Linked DNA regions of Homo sapiens: region 2 is linked to region 1. The links come from fine-mapping of genetic effects on gene expression. A gene starts in region 1. The other region holds a variant in brackets. All regions are shown on one strand. Distances are between the middles of the regions. Region 1 holds the start of ACSL1 (acyl-CoA synthetase long chain family member 1). Region 2 holds the start of MIR3945HG (MIR3945 host gene).

Region 1 (9,202 bases):
GAGCCACCGCACCTGGCCTAACCTGGAACTTTCTAGGCCCTCCTGGAGTGAGAACTTCTAGCTCTGGAGGGGCAGTAGAGCCCAGCAATTAGGAGCACAGACCCTGAAGCCAGACTGCCTAGGTTCAAATTCTGGTATGGGGAACTTAATCTTTGCACCTGTTCCTTTATCTTGTGTACAGTAAGGATAGCAGCAGGACCTACCTTACAGGGTTGCTGAAGGTACTAATGAGTTAACCCATCAGAAGCTTAGCAGCACCTGGCTCTGTCTGCTGCTCTCATCACTGCTCTGTTCCTAAGCCTGGCCGTGTCCAGGCTGTGGCTACCACCTCGGTCAGCTACCACAGCCCTGCTTTGTGGCAGACACCTGGACCCTGAAGGAGAAACTAGCTCCGGAAGCACTTTCTCATGACTCTGCTTAATAAAGGAATAAATAGTATTCAGAGTGTTTCAGTCCTTCTTATATGGACATTTCTCCCACAACAAACCTAAGGGGAAAGTGCCCATTTCTATAGCAGCCAAAGCTGTGCTAATGGATAGAGCCTACATTTATCAGAAGTCCCCTCCAGAATGAGGAAATGGTCTACAGGCAGGCCCCGTTTCCTCCTCTGATGCCCTAACTTCTTTCCATTTCTCTTTCCAAACCATGAAATCCCTATTTCAACTGCTTTTGACTAGAATACATGAACCCAAAAGTCCATTAAACCTATTCATTAGTAAAAACACTTTTCAAATTATTGTTAATTTCAAGAGTTTTAAAGCAGAACATTTTTTATTTTTTAAAGACGTATTTAAACATATAACAAAGGTTGGTAAACTGTTCTGAAAAATATCCAACAAATGGGGAGAAGTAACTAAATTATGGCCCATACAGCAAATAATGCAGTCATCTTCAGAACTTATTTTTTGAAGAATATGTAACAACGTGTAAAAAAGCCCACAATATAACTTAGGTGATAAAGTTAAATTGTCAAAATTGTAATCTTTAATTAACAATGTATGCTTAAAATTTGTTTATTGTATAGGGAAAAAAGACTGGAAGGAAATATAACAAAATGTTAATAGTATTTAATCTCTGGAAGAGCTTCATTTTTCCTATTTCCCAAATTTTCTCCAGTAAGTATGTATGACTCTTAAAATATGAAAAACAAATACAGCTTTTCTGTGGCAAGTGGTTTTTAGATATTAGACAGCTTTCAGAATTTTATTTAAACTTGAAGACCAGCAAATAATTCATAAAGAGAATCAGCCCAGGCACCTATATGGAACCACCAGTTTTGAGATTTTATTTTATTGTTTTTACTTTTTTTTTTCTAGAGATGGGGTCTTGCTCTGTTGCCCAGGCTGGTCTTGAACTCCTGGCCTCAAGCAACAAGCTATTTGCCTCCAGATGATCACATCCTTCTAAGGCAGGCAGCACAGGGGAGCAGGGCCCTTACTCACCTCCACTTAAGTTTTTGTCCAAGGGTGACACCCTCCAAGCCAGCCACACTTCAAGGAGTCTCCAATATTTCACCCGCCCCTCTTGATTCCTCAAAGGTCATAAGTGAATCAATACTGTGTTGTTTCTAACACAGTCAAGAACATGAAAGTGGGCTGGGTGCAGTGGCTCACGCCTGTAATCCTAGCACTTTGGGGAGGCCAAGGAGGGCAAATCGCTTGAGCCCAGGAGTTCGAGACAACTGGGCAATATGGCAAAACCGCTTCACTACGAAAAAAATACAAAAATTAGCTGGGCATAGTGATGTGCGCCTGTAGTCTAAGCTACTGGAGAGGCTGAAGTGGGAGGATCAACTGAGCCCAGGGAGGTGGAGAGGCTGCAACGAGCCATGATCATGCCTGTACTCCAACCTGGGCGACAGAGTGAGACCTTATCTGGGAAAAAAGAAAAAAAAAAGAAAGTGAAAATGTCATGATGTAGAAAATGAACATAACTCAGATTATGTGATAGTTTTCTCTTCTTGCCATTATATACAACCCAAGGCTTGCCACAAACTGAAATTTCTTATGCATTGACATTCAGCATTTGATGTAAAATGACAATCTTAGAGTCGCTGCCACAAACCCTGGTAAAACTGCCCCTGCCTTCTCCAGTTCACTAAGTTCAGCTACTCCTTCAGGGCTTGTGCTCCTTTAAAACTTTTCAGAAGCCCCTTGAAGTACCAACATGTTGAAACTCAAACTCAACTGCCTGCAGCTTCAGATCAGCTCTGGCCACTGAGAATTCTTCTCCAGGCCCCAGTGTCAAAGGCACTTTTGACCATCATGTGTTTGTCTGACTACCAAGTTGGACTGCCAACCTTCACTAAAAACTCCGGCACCTTTATCTACCTCCTGTCAGATCACCGCCTGTCAGAGAGGGAGGCCTAAAAAGGCTTCAGGATATCAACAGCTTTGAGCTGCCTTAGAGGAACTTCTTTTCTATTTTGTAGTACAGGAGCCTCATGCACTGCATCATCCAAACAAGACTCTCCACAAAACATTACTAATGGATTCTAATTGAACAGAGTTTGGTTACAAGAGACAGTAAACACAAATGGGCACCTGTTTTAAATGGCAAACTTACACAATAAATTCAATTGATCTTAAAAACTAAACATTCCTCTAAGGTTACTGACTATAAATATCTAGAAATTACTACTCCTATAGTCTTGCTATTTCCAGACAAGTGAAACTGGAAGGGAGAGAGGAGAAATACCCAGTTATAATGACAAGACAACCTTATCTTTTCTCAAAAGCCTCCCCAAACACACAACCATTTTCCACAAAACAGTTACATCAAAAAAGATGTAGCAAGACCTAGACATTAAGCATGCTAGAAAGTAGGGACAGTTTTACCAGTGTTTGTGGCAGCAACTCTGAGATAGTCATTTTACATCAAATGCTAAATGTCAATGCATAAGAAATTTCAGTTTGTGGTAAGCCCTGGGTTATATATAATGGCAACAAGAGAAAACTATCACATAATCTGAATTACGTTCATTTTTCTGCATACACCATGCATGCTGGTACACTTTCAGTTAGCCTAAACTTCACCCAAAAGTAGAGGTGGCTATGAAAACTCTACCTGCATGGTATAAATAGATACCTAACCCTACATGCATGGGTCACTTGTATCTACCTCCTAAATACCAAAAACTTAGAAGCCCAGATTTCTTTTCAGTCAGGCTGCCTGCGATAACAATAAAAATACTGCCAAAATAGGAACAACAGAGACAGGAAGGAAATATGCCAAAATGCTTATAATTGTGGGGAAGGGTAATTTTTTGTTTTGTTTTGTTTTTTACAGAGTCCTGCTCTGTTGCCCAGTCTGGAGTGCAGTGGCGGGATCTCAGCTCATCACAACTTCTGCCTCCTGAGTTCAAGCGATTCTCCTGGCTCAGCCTCTCGAGTAGCTGGGACTAGAGATGCATGCCACCACGCCTGGCTAATTATTTGTATTTTTAGTAGAGATAGGGTTTCTCCATGTTGGTCAGGCTGGTCTCGAACTCCTGACCTCAAATGATCTGCCCGCCTCGGTCTCCCAAAGTGCTGGGATTACAGTGAGCCACCACGCCTGTCTGGGTAATTTTTTTTTAAGTATTCTGTTTACAGTAAATTCAGAAAACAGAAGTCTTTAATATGTCTGTTTTAAAGGGGAGAGGTATAAGGTGTGCGGCTAACAAGTTTATTTTTCTAGTCGCAGAATTTGGACTCGTGAAAGATTTTAGTCTAATGCAGTTTGTTCACAAATATAAGGAGGGGGGCCTCAGACTAGGGAGGTGTTTTCCGAGTTGAGTCAGAACAAGAAAGTAAGTCTCCCAAGACCTGGTCCTTTTCCACTATATCACACTGCACTGTCTGGCTCCAATCTGATGGCGAGCAATGGTTCCTTAAAAAGCTCCATCTTCTCAAGCCTACCCAGCACAGACCTACAACTCAAACTTTAAGTTTTAGCCAGCCTAACCTTCCACGTCCACTTGAAAAAAGAAAAAAAAGAAAGAAACAATCAACCGGAAGCCTTTGATTTTTTTGCTAGCAAGAAGCCAATAATTGTTTTCTTTGGGACAATCACAGGTTAAGTTGTGAAATGGGTGGCAGAAACTGCAAGATTTAACCAGTTTCTCTCAACGCTAATCAAAGGTCAAGAAAATAAAAGACAGGGCAGTGAGAGTCGCGGGACTTTAGACACTCCTGCACCAAGAAGCTTAAAAGTCTTAGCCAGGGCACTAGAGAACGCTTTTAGAATGGTCACTCTTAATTATGCTCCATAACCTTGAAATTGGACTGAGTGGGGAAGGGGTTTCCACACTCTCACAACGCACCGACTGGGGGAACGCCTGTCCCCAGACTCGAATCCACGTGTCCATTCAAGTCATCTACCGCCACTCTCCGTCTACGCTGCCAGGTGACAGACATCATCTTTGCTTCTCAATTTCAAAAAATGCCAGCACTCCTTAGATCAATGACTCCACGGCCAAGTGCAAGGGCCACGGGCACTCCTCTGGAGTCACCGAGAGAATGTCTGCCTCTGGCAGCGGCCTCTGAGCTGCCTGTGGGCCTCGTGCCGCCGCGCTGCGTGGGGCCGGCATCTCAGCGGGCGCGAGTGCAGTCTCGCCCCACGCGCGGTCCGAACGCCCGCGAGCCCGGCCTCTGGGCAGGCGGGGGCCGCGGACGAGGGCAACGTCAGCGGCCCAGCTGGGCCACCTCCTCCCAGCCGAAGCGCGGCCTCCGGCTGCTTCGCCGGGCCGGTCCCCGCCGCCGCACACACAAGGGTCGGTCCCGCGCGCATCCCCGGCCGCGCACCAGCCCCGCGCCCGCGCCGCCCGCGACTCAGACACAGGAAGCTGCGGCAGCACGGGCACCCCGGAGGCCTCCGGCTGCCGAGGGAAGCGGGGCCGCGGGCAGGAGGCCGGAAAGGCGGCGCGGCCCCACGAGCCTGGGGTGGCTCACGCGCCTCCGCGGCGGCCGCTGCTCCGGGCTCGGCCCTGAAGGGCAACGTCAGCCGGCGCCTCGGCCGGGGCCCGGGCACCGCCGCGGGAGCAGGCGCGGCTCCGCACGGCGGGCGCACTCACCTCCTCCGTGGACCGGCCGCTCCGCCGCCGGCTGTCACTGCAGCCCACTCCCTGCCCCGCGCCGGCTCTGGATGCTATTTAAGGCGCCGCTGGCGCCGCCGCCTCGGCCCGCTGGTTGCGCCCCCGCCACCGCCGCGGCTGAGCCAGGATGCTGCTGGTGCGCTCGCCGCGCCGGCCCCGCCCTCCCGCGGCCCCGCCCCGCCCGCAGGCCCCGCCCCCGGCAGGCCCCGCCCCGCCGAGCGCCCGGCCGCCCTCCTGTCTGGGCGCGCGTGGCTGGCGGGTGGCCGGCGGTCGAGAGGCTGCGGCGGGCGAACGCCGCTGGAGTCGCCCAGACTGCCTCGGATTTCATAATGAATCTGAGGAAGGACAAAGGGTACATTGGACCGCCTCAGCTCAGAGGCCCCGCGGACCCTGGGCCCCGCGATGCCCGAGGGGCGGGCGGCGCCCTCCGGATCCTGCACCCTCAGCCCGTGCCCCGCTGGCCTCCTGGCAGGCCGGGCAGAATTCTGCTGCGAGGGCCCTGGAGGCAAGGGCCTTCCTCTCCGTTTTTCCTTGACACTGACGGGCGCGGCCCCACAGGGTTTCCCCCACGCTCCCTGGCCGGAAGACCTTTTCTGTCTGGTGTCTGCAGAGCCTGACGTGGGCAGCGCCCGCAGCTCGCGCCGGTGCAGGGGAGCTGAGGGCCGACTGCGCGCTGCACCACGGCGGCCACCTGCTGTGCGGTTCTGAGGGCTTCCGCGGTTCTGAGGGCTTCCGCGTCCCTGCCATGCCCATCTTGGGGCTTCAGAAGCCAACACGATGGTTTTCGGGCTCACATCCCAAAGGCTGCTCTTCCTTTTAGCACCTGGGACCTACCAGGAACCTCAACCTCTAACAACATTGGTCCCCGTTACCGTGGAGTTTGCGCCCAGCGTTCGCTGGAGGGCCGTTTGAAGAATGATTGTTGTCGTAAAGGCCTTTGATAATAATAGATACTGTTTACCCAGTGCTTGATGCCAGGCATTGCTACAAACACTGCGTACACATTATTCTATTTAATCTTCATAACCCAGTGAGGTAGGTACTGTCATTACTGTCCTTTCACAGAAGAGGAAGCTGGGGCACAGAGGTTAAATGCTAGTGAGAGCAGTACCACACTTGGCACTCAGGCTGCCCCCAGAGTGTGGGCACAACCAACGCAGGGCTATGCCTGGGCTGCAGGCAGGGGAAACTGACCGTGGTTCGCTCCAGGCCTCAGCCACACTGCAGTTCACTCCCACAAATAACTGAAGGACTTTCCCTGGGTGTCTCCCACAGTGTGCTGGGCGCAGTGGTGCAGTGGGGTGAGGACAACGCACACACCAGCAACCTCTCTAGCAGCTCAGTCCTTTTAGATCTCCATCTTCCAGATCTAGAAAAAATGGACTCCACGTTCGTTTTCACTGGTTCCCGCTTGGCTAATCCCTGGTTTTTCTGTCCAGATCTCGCCTCCCCATCCGTGATTTTGTCATCTTTGCCTCTCCTTTTTCCTCTTCTCCAACCGGTCCCTCAGCCCCAGAACCTCTGCAGGCACCTCCCAAGTTCTGTGGTCTATTGTTTTCAAGGGCTGCTGGAACGAAGTACCACACACTAAGTGGCTTCAACAACCGAAATGTATGGTCTGTCCTGGTTCTGGAGACTAGAAGTACAAAATCACGGCGTGGGAGGGCTGGCTGCTTCCGAGGCCCATGAAAGAGCATGTGTGCCCGGCCACTCTGACTTGCAGATGCCCATCTTCTCCCTATGTCTCCTCACACCATCTTCCCTGTGGTGTGTGTGTGCAAATCCCTTCTTTCTATAAGGACACCAGTCATACTGGACTAGGGCCCACCCGAATTGCCTCATTTTAACTTGATGACCTCTGTAATCATGAGGTAATGTCCAAGTAAGGTCCCATTCTAAGATACCTGAATGCCCAGGCACGGTGGTTCATGCCTGTAATCCCAGCACTTTGGGAGGCCGAGGCAGGCAGATCAACTGAGGTCAGGAGTTCAAGACCAGCCTGGCCAACATGGTGAAACCCTGTCTCTACTAAAAATAAAAAAATTAGCGGGGCATGGTGGTGCGTACCTGTAGTCCCAGCTACTCGGGAGGCTGAGGCAGAAGAATTGTTTGAACCCAGGGAGGTGGAGGTTGCAATGAGCCAAGATCACGCCACTGCATTCCAGCCTGGGAGACAGAGCAAGACTCTGTCTCAAAACAACAACAACAACAACAACAAACCCCTGAACATATGAACTTGGGGAATGTGGGGGTGACAATTCAACCCGTAACATGTGGATGGTCGTCACTGGCTGTCTCACCTTACGTCTTCTCCTCAAGACACTTTTCTTTTAAACTGGGTGCCTCTCCCTGGGCTCTAGCCCTTAATGAGGTGATTTCCAACTCAAGGCTGGGAAAGGCACACAACCCAGTATCAGACCTGAGTTCACACTCCTTCTGGCAGGAACTTCTAGGTGACATTGGGAAGCAACTTCATTCCTTAGAACCTAGATTTCTCCTCAGGCTATAAGGGGGCTTGGCTAAATAATCTCTTAGGTCTCTTTCAGCACACACACTTAAAAAAAAACAAAAAAGTTTTTATCTAATCACTCCAAAAAGTTTTACAATGTATGGGGTTGTCTTGTGGACTTGAGATAGAGACTTTGATGGGAGGCAGTATTGCATAGTGGTTAAGAACACAGGCTTTGGGGTGGGTGAATCCACATCAAGCCTCATTGCATCCTCCTTAAATCAGGAATAATACCTACCTCAGACAGGTGTCATAGGATTGACAGCCACGCCCTTGGCGTTCTCATTAAATGAAGATTCCAGACTCTATAGTTGGGAGTTTGTGACTTAGGTAAGAAACCAGTCTCTTTTTTTGAGACGGAGTCTCACTCTGTTGCCCAGGCTGGGGTGCAGTGGTGCGATCTCGGCTCACTGCAATCTCTACCTCCTGGGTTCATGCCATTTTCCTGCCTCAGCCTCCCAAGTAGCTGGGACCACAGGCACCCACCACCACACCCGGCTAGTTTTTTGTATTTTTAGTAGAGATGGGGTTTCATTGTGTTAGCCAGGATGGTCTCGATCTCCTGACTTCGTGATCCACCCGCCTTGGCCTCCCAAAGTGCTGGGATTACAGGCGTGAGCCACCGCGCCCGGCCTTTTTTTTTTTTTTTTTTTTAAATGAAGGACATGATTGTTTTTAAAAATTGGGCCAGGTGCGGTGGCTCACACCTGTAATCCCAGCACTTTGGGAGGCAAATGCAGGAGGATTGCTTGAGTCCGGGAATTCAAGACCAGCCTGAGCAACATAGTGAGACCCTCCGTCTCTAAGAAAAAGTTTTTAAAAATTGTGTCACAGTGATCACAATGACCACTATTCACATCATAATGGCTTTTCTTTTGGCTATTAACACTGCAGTGTTTTTGTATACTGAAATGTGTCTGTGGGACCAACAGCATTAAAGAATAAAGATCCTAGATGAAAATAAACACTAATAATCCTGGTGTCCTCTCCAATAGAATTAATCTAAACTCCTTATGAATCAGTAGCATTATAATGTTATGTAGTTATGAGGAATAGAATTCTTTTAGAAGCAGGCAGCATGAACTTATACTTCCTTGTACTTACTTCTTTAAGAAACCAGTCTTAACCCTCCTTTCTACTGTCTTTTTTTTCAAGCATCTCTCTAGCCAAGGGAATAAGAGCCAATTGGATATTGTAGTGGTGCAAATTTCCTAGCGGAAATTTGAGTCTTTTTTCGGTCACTCCTGCCCTTGTTACATTTTGGCCTGATTAAAATGTTGTGGCTAATTCTGGCTAAATCCACATTGACATCTGCCTAACACCGATTGATCAATCTCCTGGAGAAGCTAAAGAGAACTGGGCCGGGTGCAGTGGCACATGCCTGTAATCCCAGCATGTTGGGAGGCCAAGGTCGGCGGATCACTTCAGCCCAGGAGTTTGAGACCAGTGTGAGCAACATGGCGAGATCCTGTCTCTACAAAAAATACAAAACTTAGCCCAGCATGGTGGTGTGCACCTGTAGCCTATAGTCCCAGCTACATGGGAGGCTGAGGTGGGAGGATCTCTTGAACCCAGGAGGTCGAGACTGCAGTGAACCGTGATTGCACCATTGCACTTTG
Region 2 (9,202 bases), 29 kb after region 1:
TGATTCATCCTTCCCAGACCCACATGACCTGAACACTGTGATGCGTTATAATGGCAGGGAGAGGAATTTTGGATTCAACCTGATCTGAATTGGAACCCTGGCTTTATTATTTACTAATGTATGTCTTTCCTCATTTTTTCTTGATGTTGCTGGTTCTGATTTTCTTCATTTGCTCAATAAGGATGATAAATAGCTACTCCTCAGGGTTGCTGTGGGGATCAGATATGATACGAGTAAAGGGCTGGCACTACTGGTTTCCTAAACCCAACTCCCTTCCATCTTGCCCATGTCCCATGCAGGTATTGGAAAACCCAAGCATTGACTCTCCAGACCAGCCTCGCACCTAAGAACGCCGTGGGATGCAGTTTCAGACAGTGAGAAATCTGCTGGGGATGCCTGGGAAAGGGACATACCTGGCAGGTGCCGCTCCATGGCCTTCTTGCTGCCTTGAATTGGGACATGAGCCTGAGTCGCAGCAGCCGTCTTGTGACTGAGAGGTGGCAAGCAGGAGGAAGAGGCTAAGAGAATAGAGACACTGTTGAGCTGCTGAAGCACAGCAAGCGGCCACTTCTCTATGCTTCTTGCTATTTGACTGTTAAGCTAGTGCAAGTTACTTTTCTGGTCAGAATGAATTCATAACTGAAACATGCTTTAAAGTATGACTATTATTATTAAATGCAGCATAAGCTTTCCATAGCTGCTACACGATCACACCCACTGCTGTCTCAGACTGACCAGTGGCCGACTAAACATGACAGCAAGTACTGTTGCCAGCCTCTGCCTTCTTATACTTGTGGAGTTTGTTTAAATCTAAATTCAGGACTCACCCTGTTAAATTTTATCTCCTTAGCTTGTCCCCTTCTTTTCAGAGATTTGCAATTCAAATTAGTATTATAACCTCAATTGATATATGGCTGTGGACCAGTCAGGAATCATTGAATCATCCCCCACTTTGGAAAGCATAAGAGGCTGTAATTGCATTTTATATCAACCCTCTCCTATGCCCTCCCCGTCACGTGCATCAACATCTCTTTTCTCTCAGAAAGACCTCATCTTATTTGAGGTGATATTTGAGTACATAGTTCCTTTTAGGGTACTGGGGACCTTTTTGGTGGTAGGGTGGAGAGTGTGCACCACAGAGACTAGTCACCAAGAGTCCCTGCAGTTAAGTCTGCGTATCCTGTGCTGGTGAAGGGTGGATGGGCTTTATGCAAATCTCTGCTTGGCTGCAGAATCTCCCAGTGAGATGAGCAAGGGTGCTTTGCAGTCAGTGTTGAAACCCCAGAAGAGCAGGAAATGATGCTGTTCCTGCCCAAAGGCAGAATGAAATGCAAGGAAAGGAGAAAAACATTATGACATAAGTATTAAGAAAGATGCTGTTTACGGGAACTCTGAAAGACTGGAATTCAGAGCCGCTACCAATTAAGAAAGTTAATGATGACTTGCAGCAGGTTTGCAGAAAGTGAAAGGAAGGTGAGGCTATTTAATTGCCACCATAACAGAAGAACTTGTAGAAAATAGGAATGGGATCACAATCATTATTAACTCATAAAAAATTTATAGGGTGCCATTTCTAATACGACACTGTGCAGGGATACTGCAGTCTAGCGTTACCTCCAGTTTAGACAGGCTGAAATACATACAGTTTCTCATCTGTATGAGATAAGGTGATATAAAATGAAGCTGATCGGGCTAGTTTATTGGATAAAACCAACAACGAAGGGAAATAAGTAACTATTTATACAACATGGTAACTATCTACATTGTTCATTAGCAGACGATGTTTGTAACTGGAGATGAAATGCATTAAGCATGTTTGGGAAAGGAATAAATGGGATGTAACCATGGAAGTCCTATGCTTAACCAGGGTGGGGAGGGGGGCAGGGATATAGAGAACTTCAACTAGACAGGCCTGGTGGAGAAAGTGTGTGTCTAAGAATTACTTGCAAAGTGAGCTGTGTCAGGGAGCATCCTGGTGCATGCTCCAAGATATGTTGGATAACAGTTGAGTACAACTCATGATGGAATTACAAAACTCCAAGATACAGTTGGATAGTTGGGTAACAGTTGAGCATCACCATGATGGAAGAGATGAAGAGACTTTTTGAATGTGTTTGAGAGGAGTGAAATGAATCCTACAATGATAATAATAATAATTGCTATTATTTTTTCAGACACGTGTGAAACCAGAAAAAAATAAATTAGGTGAAAGAATCTTCATTCCTGGTGACACCTTAGAAGAAGAAACAGACAATCTTGGATGGATTTGTTAAAGATCAGAGGATCCATAATGTCATGCAAAATGGTGGGATTGGGGGCAAACAGATCAAGTTGATGAGTGGGGTTAGCAACAGTGAGACCTGAAAGAGAAAACAAGTTAACAGAAGCCAGACTAAGTGCAGGACTAACCTGCACCCTAAGAGGGTGCAGGCTCAGGAACCAGTCCATGAGGAGTTGCACCATAGTAAGGGGTAGAGATGAACTGAAGCTCGCTCATGATTACCAGCGGTATTGGCCTCTCCAAGAACTAAAAATAACCTCCTTCTTTGTCTTGCTGTTACTTCCAAGCCACAGCCGAGTTCTCTCTCTATACTTACACCTCAGATGAATGAGCAGTGCCTGTGGCTGTGGCCAGTGTCTTTTATTCCCACCTGGTTCCTCCCAGTCTGTGTTCCATGTTGTCACTGCCCCAACTGCACAAGCCTTTTCCTAGTCCTCAATCTTTTCTCCCCACAGCAGCCCTGGGCACAGTAGACCTCCCTAGCCTTTTGAGGAACCTCTTCTGTTACCTGACTGCTGTGGTCTACGTGACCATCTTACCTCTTCCTCTGCATTTTCCTTGTGTCTGTCACTGACTCTCTCCCGTGTCCCGCTCCCCAACTGTGGGTGCCCCAGATGTGTCAATCCTCATTCTCCGATCTTCTCTCTTTATACTAGATTCTAATTCACCTTTATTCATCTATACTCCCAGAGTCAAGTTTTGATTATGTATATATAACCAAATGGCATATAACTCTATCTATCTATCTATCTATCTATCTATCTATCTATGCCATCTCATTTCATGTCTTCACGAAATATCTGTTAGCTGTTTTTCTCCAGATTATCATCCTTCCTTAAGTGCTGTTGTGGTAGCAGTGGTGGTGGTAGTAGCAGTAGTAACAGCAACAACCTCTATCATATAGTAAATGCTAACTATATCTCAGGTGCTTTAGTAAAATCTCATTTAAGCCTTTCAATGTTATACATTGATATTGCTGTTGAACACATTTTATAGAGGAGGAAACAATCTCAGCAGGTTTAACGGTGGTTCCCAGTCACACAGCTAACACAGAACACGGCCTTGAACTCAGATTTTGTCTGACTAAAGTTTGTCATCCTATTTCTGTGCTAAAGCTTCTACAGCAGTCCCTGTTGCTTACCAGGTGAGGCCCAGCATCCTCACGGACCATCCCGGATCTCCGTAACGTAGCTCCACTGATCTGCTCCAGTGACTGCCTTCTGCTCCCAGAGTGGCACCTCCTTAACCACCCTCACCTTCCTACGCAGTGAATGAAGTGCAGACATGAATCCTGAGTCTGCCATTTAGTACTTCTCTAAAACTGACTTCTTGTATTTGTAAAATACCCGCCTCACAATCTCAGGATTGCTGTGAGCATCGTATATAATGAGTGCAAAGGGCCCGGCATAGTGCAAGGGACATGATAGGTGCATAACGAATAGGACCCACTGAGGCTGTTACTCATATTTCTGCTCTTGTGCCTTGTTCGTGTTATTCTCTACATATGAAATGTTTGTACTTCCTATTGCTCTGGCCTGACAGTCCTTAAGGGCTAAATTCCATCTTTACTAAATGTTTCCTTGGCTCTAACACACATTGATCTCTCCCCTCCCCAATTCTGAATGCACTTTCTTTTTTCTTTTTTTTTTTTTTGAGACAGAGTCTCGCTCTGTCGCCCAGCCTGGAGTGCAGTGGCGCGATCTCGGCTCACTGCAAGCTCCGCCTCCCGGGTTCATGCCATTCTCCTGCCTCAGCCTCCCGAGTAGCTGGGACTACAGGCGCCCACCACCACGCCCAGCTAATTTTTTGCATTTTTAGTAGAGACGGGGTTTCACCGTGTTAGCCAGGATGGTCTCGATCTCCTGACCTCGTGATCTGCCCGCCTCGGCCTCCCAAAGTGCTGGGATTACAGGCGTGAGCCACCGTGCCCGGCCCTCTGAATGCACTTTCTATATACACCAGGTGGCTGGTGTTATCTACTGTCTTATTCTTGAATGGCTTTGGGTAAGCGAGCCTCATAAGTTACTGGTGAGCTTGCTTGTATTGCTTCTGTGCTCCTCTCAAAGCTACTGGCACACTGTACCAAAGTGATTTGTTCATTGATTGATGGAGAAATGTAAACATTGGGACAAATCAGAGAGAAAAAAGGGCAAATTGGACATTATCTTGTTCGATTTCAGTTGGCAGTCAATGGTTTGTGTTCAAATTATCCTACAGAGGCTTGAACCAGGAGGGGAGGTTCAGAAAACAGATGGTGGGAAAGAGAACAGATCTCTGTATTATGGAGCTTTGACTTTAAAATTATTTCTCTTAAAGAAGAGATAGACCCAAAAGGAAATGATCTGAGATAAATTTCCAGGGACCAGTAAGACAGAAGTACCACTAAATATGAAGAGGCAGTGG[A/G]CTGGGAATAATGAGAGAAGACCCAGGCAATCATGCCTGTAAGTTACGATAAAGAAAACAGGAAGCACATTTCGACAGAAAAACCATACTTTACATTAAAGAAGTGAGATTGTGTCTGTTGCAAGAGTGAGAGGGAAAGCCCGCAACGACCTCAGGGACCCAGTGAATTAGCTCACGGGAAGCCCAGGGCCTCTTTTGCTAGCTGCTAATGAAGGGAATTAGATAACCATGTTATTTTGAAAGAAAACAGATTATGTTTATTGAATGATCTAAAAGAAGCGAAAAGGGCTAGGTAAAGATGCCATGTTTTGGATTCTGATGTTGGGTCACACCAGGGCGCCCATTCTTCTGTATTCACAAAATGCCCAAATAGGGAGAGGTCTTGCCAGGCGCGTGAACTCGCCACTGTGGCTGAGCAACAAAGGTACATTGAAAGGAAGCGTGTGTGTTTGTGGCTTTGAGCCCCTTTTCCTATTCTGCTGAAGATTAGGAAATTATAGGTTATACTGCTTGAAATGAAGACAGAGTAAATGGTAGGAGGGTTGTAAATCACCTGCGAAGCACCGTCTTCGACCATGCCATATAGCAAGGCTACCCAAAACACTCCAGTCTCTAATTTGTTCAACTTAAAGAATAAGAGGGATATGTCAGTCAGGACCTGCTAACTGCTGTATCAGACAACCCCAGATCCCTAACGACTTACCTCACAGTCATCAGGGGCTAGACAAGTGACCTTCCACACGATAATTCAGAGATACTGCTCCTTTCCTGTAGTTCTCCAGTCCTCAGCACAGGGTCTCAAGATCATCTAGCATCGACCAGTCAGCAAATGTCGGAAGAGGAAAGATAGCTTCCTTAGTCCCTAAGAGACAGCATCTCGTTTTCACTACATTCCACTGGTGAGAACTACTCATATGGCCACACCTAGACACAGCGGTGACTGGAAAGTTAATTTGATTGTGTTTCCAGGAAAAGGAGATAGGCTTGGTGAGTCAGTCTCTCTAGAGGAAAATATGGAACTGGGTTGGATTAAAAAAAATCCAGGCTGGGCGCGGTGGCTCATGCCTGTAATCCCAGCACTTTGGGAGGCCAAGGCGGGTGGATCACCAGAGGTCAGGAGTTCGAGACCAGCGTGGCCAACATGGTAAAACTCCGTCTCGATTAAAAATTAAAAAAAAAAAATTAGCCGGGTGTGGTGGTGGGCGCCTGTAATCCCAGCTACTCAGGAGACTGAGGCAGGAGAATAGCTTGAACCCGGGAGGCAGAGGTTGTAGTGAGCTGAGACTGCACCACTGCACTCCAGCCTGGGTGACAGAGTGAGACTCCGTCTCAAAAAAAAAAAAAAAAAAAAAAAATTCAGGTAATGATTTATATGTTTCTATCAAGCAATATGCCTATAAACATGGAATGATTGAATTTTCAGTTTCAAATACATGTTTTGGGTTGTGAAGACTCAAAAAGCTTGTGGGTCTCTTTGTTTTTGTCAAAGTATATGAATAAACGAGGATTGCAGAAGTTTACTTGTGGAATGAATGCATTAGTAAATTAATGAAGCTTTCTCCTGTACTGAAAGAAGAGTATAAGGTCATGACTCATGGTCATGAGGTAGGAAATAATTCTGCTCACCAAGAAACAAGGACATTTTAAATATCTAAAAAAGCAGAAATGAGAAAGGAAGCATGAAAAATAATCATTTAGCCAACAGTTACAGCACCTACTGACAGACAGAAAGTACAGGGCATTGACATAGTTTAAATCCAGTGACTTCCGTTTTTCCTAATAGAATCAGAGTGATAATGCATTTTAAAGGTTATTTTTATTATTTCATGTCTCCAAACCATTTTCAGAGGGAAATTATCATGGCTGTCACAACAGTAGCTTAATACACAAGGTTGATGGTATTTTACAAAAGTGTCACAAGTGGATTTTAAAGTTAAAAAAAAAAAGGGGGGCTGAGTGCAGTGGCTCATGTCTGTAATCCCAGCACTTTGGGAGGCTGAGTCGGGCGGATCACCCGAGGTCACGAGTTCGAGACCAGCCTGGACAACATGGTGAAACCCCGTCTCTACTAAAAATACAAAAATTATCCAGGTGTGGTGGTGCGCGCCTGTAATCCCAGCTACTCTGGAGGCTGAGGCAGGGGAATCACTTGAACCCTGGAGGCAGAGGTTGCAGTGAACTGAGATTGCACCACTATACTCCAGCCTGGGTGACAGGGGGAGACTCCATCTCAAAAATAAAAAATAATAAATAAGGTTAAAAAAAAGATCAGTATGATATAGCTTATATGAATAGAAAAGATGATTCTCGAACAATAGCATGAGGCATATGAGTTGAAAATAAAGCCTAGAGGTCTTCACCTACAGCAGAGAAAATTTTCACTCTCCCCCACCCCACAGAAGACAGACAGACCTACCCCAAAATTAAAATGACATTAGCCCCATAAGCATGTTTCCCTCCTCAGGTAACAAAGAAGATACCTCAGTTCTAAATCCACACAGTTTTAAAGATGTCATATATTTAATGCTCTTTTTTTTTTCTTTTTTTTTTGAGATGGAGTCTTGCTCTGTCACCCAGGCTGGAGTGCAGTGGCACGATCTTGTCTCACTGCAACCTCTGCCTCCCGGGTTCAAGCAATTCTCTGCCTCAGCCTCCCGAGTAGCTGGGATTACAGGTGCCCGCCACCACATCCAGCTAATTTTTGAATTTTTAGTAGAGACGGGGTTTCACCATCTTGGCCAGTCTGGTCTTGAACTCCTGACCTCGTGATTCACCTGCCTTGGCCTCCCAAAGTGCTGGGATTACAAGCGTGAGCCACCATGCCCGGCCTAATGCTCATTCTAACTAGAAGGAAGTAAAGCCTCAGAACAGTAAAATGATTTGCCACATGTCACAGTTGCAATAAACAGTTCAAGTCCACTCCATAAAGAGATACTAGCAATCCTACGGTTTGTCGAAAGCCAGGCTTCTCGGATAACAAAATATTCTAGGTTCTTTGACAAAATGGGTGATGGGAAGTAAGGAGGAGGGCCTAGTTTCTGAAGCTGCAGGTCATGTAAGGAGCTTGCCCTCAGGCTGGCAAGGCCTAGGAATGGGGGGTGCAGGCGGCCTTCAAGTGCCTGGGGGCCAAGAGGAAGTGCTGCTGTCCCCTGAAATCTTTTTATGGGAGGAACTGACACTGTGGGTCTGTTCAAGTCCCCAAAATGGGGACAGGCTGGGGGCTGAGGACACAGACTCAAGGCCCCTCATTGGCAGTCATGGCCAGGCCAAGGAGCCCAGCTCAGGGCTGCTGGCTTATTCTCAAGCCCCCCAGGGATGTGAAGAGGGGTGCAGAGACTCACGTTTTGCACCCACGGAGTCCAGGACTGGGGTGTTAGAAGTGGGGTAGATTTAGTGGACACAGCAGATCAAGTGCATGTGAAGAGCGCCGCAGCAGCTCTGCATCTCCCAAAGGTCCCAGCTGGTCCTCTGAAGACCCGGGATCACAACTCCACATCGTCACCTCGGGGTCCCAAAGGTCCCAGCTGGTCCTCTGAAGACCCGGGATCACAACTCCACATCGTCACCTCGGGGTCCCAAAGGTCCCAGCTGGTCCTCTGAAGACCCGGGATCACAACTCCACATCGTCACCTCGGGGTCCCAAAGGTCCCAGCTGGTCCTCTGAAGACCCGGGATCACAACTCCACATCGTCACCTCGGGGTCCCAAAGGTCCCAGCTGATCCTCTGAAGACCCGGGATCACAACTCCACATCGTCACCTCGGGGTCCCAAAGGTCCCAGCTGGTCCTCTGAAGACCCGGGATCACAACTCCACATCGTCACCTCGGGGTCCCAAAGGTCCCAGCTGGTCCTCTGAAGACCCGGGATCACAACTCCACATCGTCACCTCGGGGTCCCAAAGGTCCCAGCTGGTCCTCTGAAGACCCGGGATCACAACTCCACATCGTCACCTCGGGGTCCCAAAGGTCCCAGCTGGTCCTCTGAAGACCTGGGATCACAACTCCACATCGTCACCTCGGGGTCCCAAAGGTCCCAGCTGGTCCTCTGAAGACCTGGGATCACAACTCCACATCGTCACCTTGGGGTCCCAAAGGTCCCAGCTGGTCCTCTGAAGACCTGGGATCACAACTCCACATTGTCACCTTGGGGTTGTAGACCCAGGCAAGTTGTTTGTACTCATGACGGTGCAGCTCCTTTTTTTGAAAGGGGGGAATAAGACAGCTGATCAGTAGGCCAGACCTCAGTGAGCTCACTGTGTGCAAAGTTCACACCTGGAGCAGATGGCAGAGTTGCTGGAGGCTCAAAGGCTCTGAGGCACGTGGAAGTGGCTTCAGGGCAGGGCAAGAGAGGCTGTTACACTTTCCAGTCACCTCCTCTCTGGCACCAGCAACCCATTCTTCCAGATTTTTCCTCACAGTTCCATTATACATTTTCTCCCCATATGATAAAGTGTTGGGTTAGACTGAGGCCATTAAGAAAGGGCTACCTACCTAGATAATATCATAACCTCTATCTATT

What was found.
Region 2: its variant is fine-mapped to the expression of ACSL1 in whole blood (TOPMed, PIP 0.96).

The regions. Positions count from the first base shown.
Region 1 is chr4:184,820,863-184,830,064 of GRCh38, forward strand. It overlaps ACSL1 (acyl-CoA synthetase long chain family member 1), which reads right to left and starts at 5,106. Exons shown (of 21, transcript NM_001995.5): 1 at 5,054-5,106. LOC105377587 (a long non-coding RNA gene) reads left to right here and starts at 5,309. Exons shown (of 3, transcript XR_939564.4): 1 at 5,309-6,109. RefSeq lists enhancers at 4,355-4,424, 5,675-6,178, 5,785-5,834, 6,005-6,284 and a silencer at 4,595-5,554.
Region 2 is chr4:184,850,082-184,859,283 of GRCh38, forward strand. MIR3945HG (MIR3945 host gene) reads right to left here and starts at 5,571. Exons shown (of 3, transcript NR_132989.1): 1 at 5,388-5,571; 2 at 414-518. It overlaps MIR3945 (microRNA 3945), which reads right to left and starts at 1,029; the gene lies at 932-1,029. RefSeq lists an enhancer at 479-548. The variant A/G (reference allele first, on the strand shown) is at 4,685.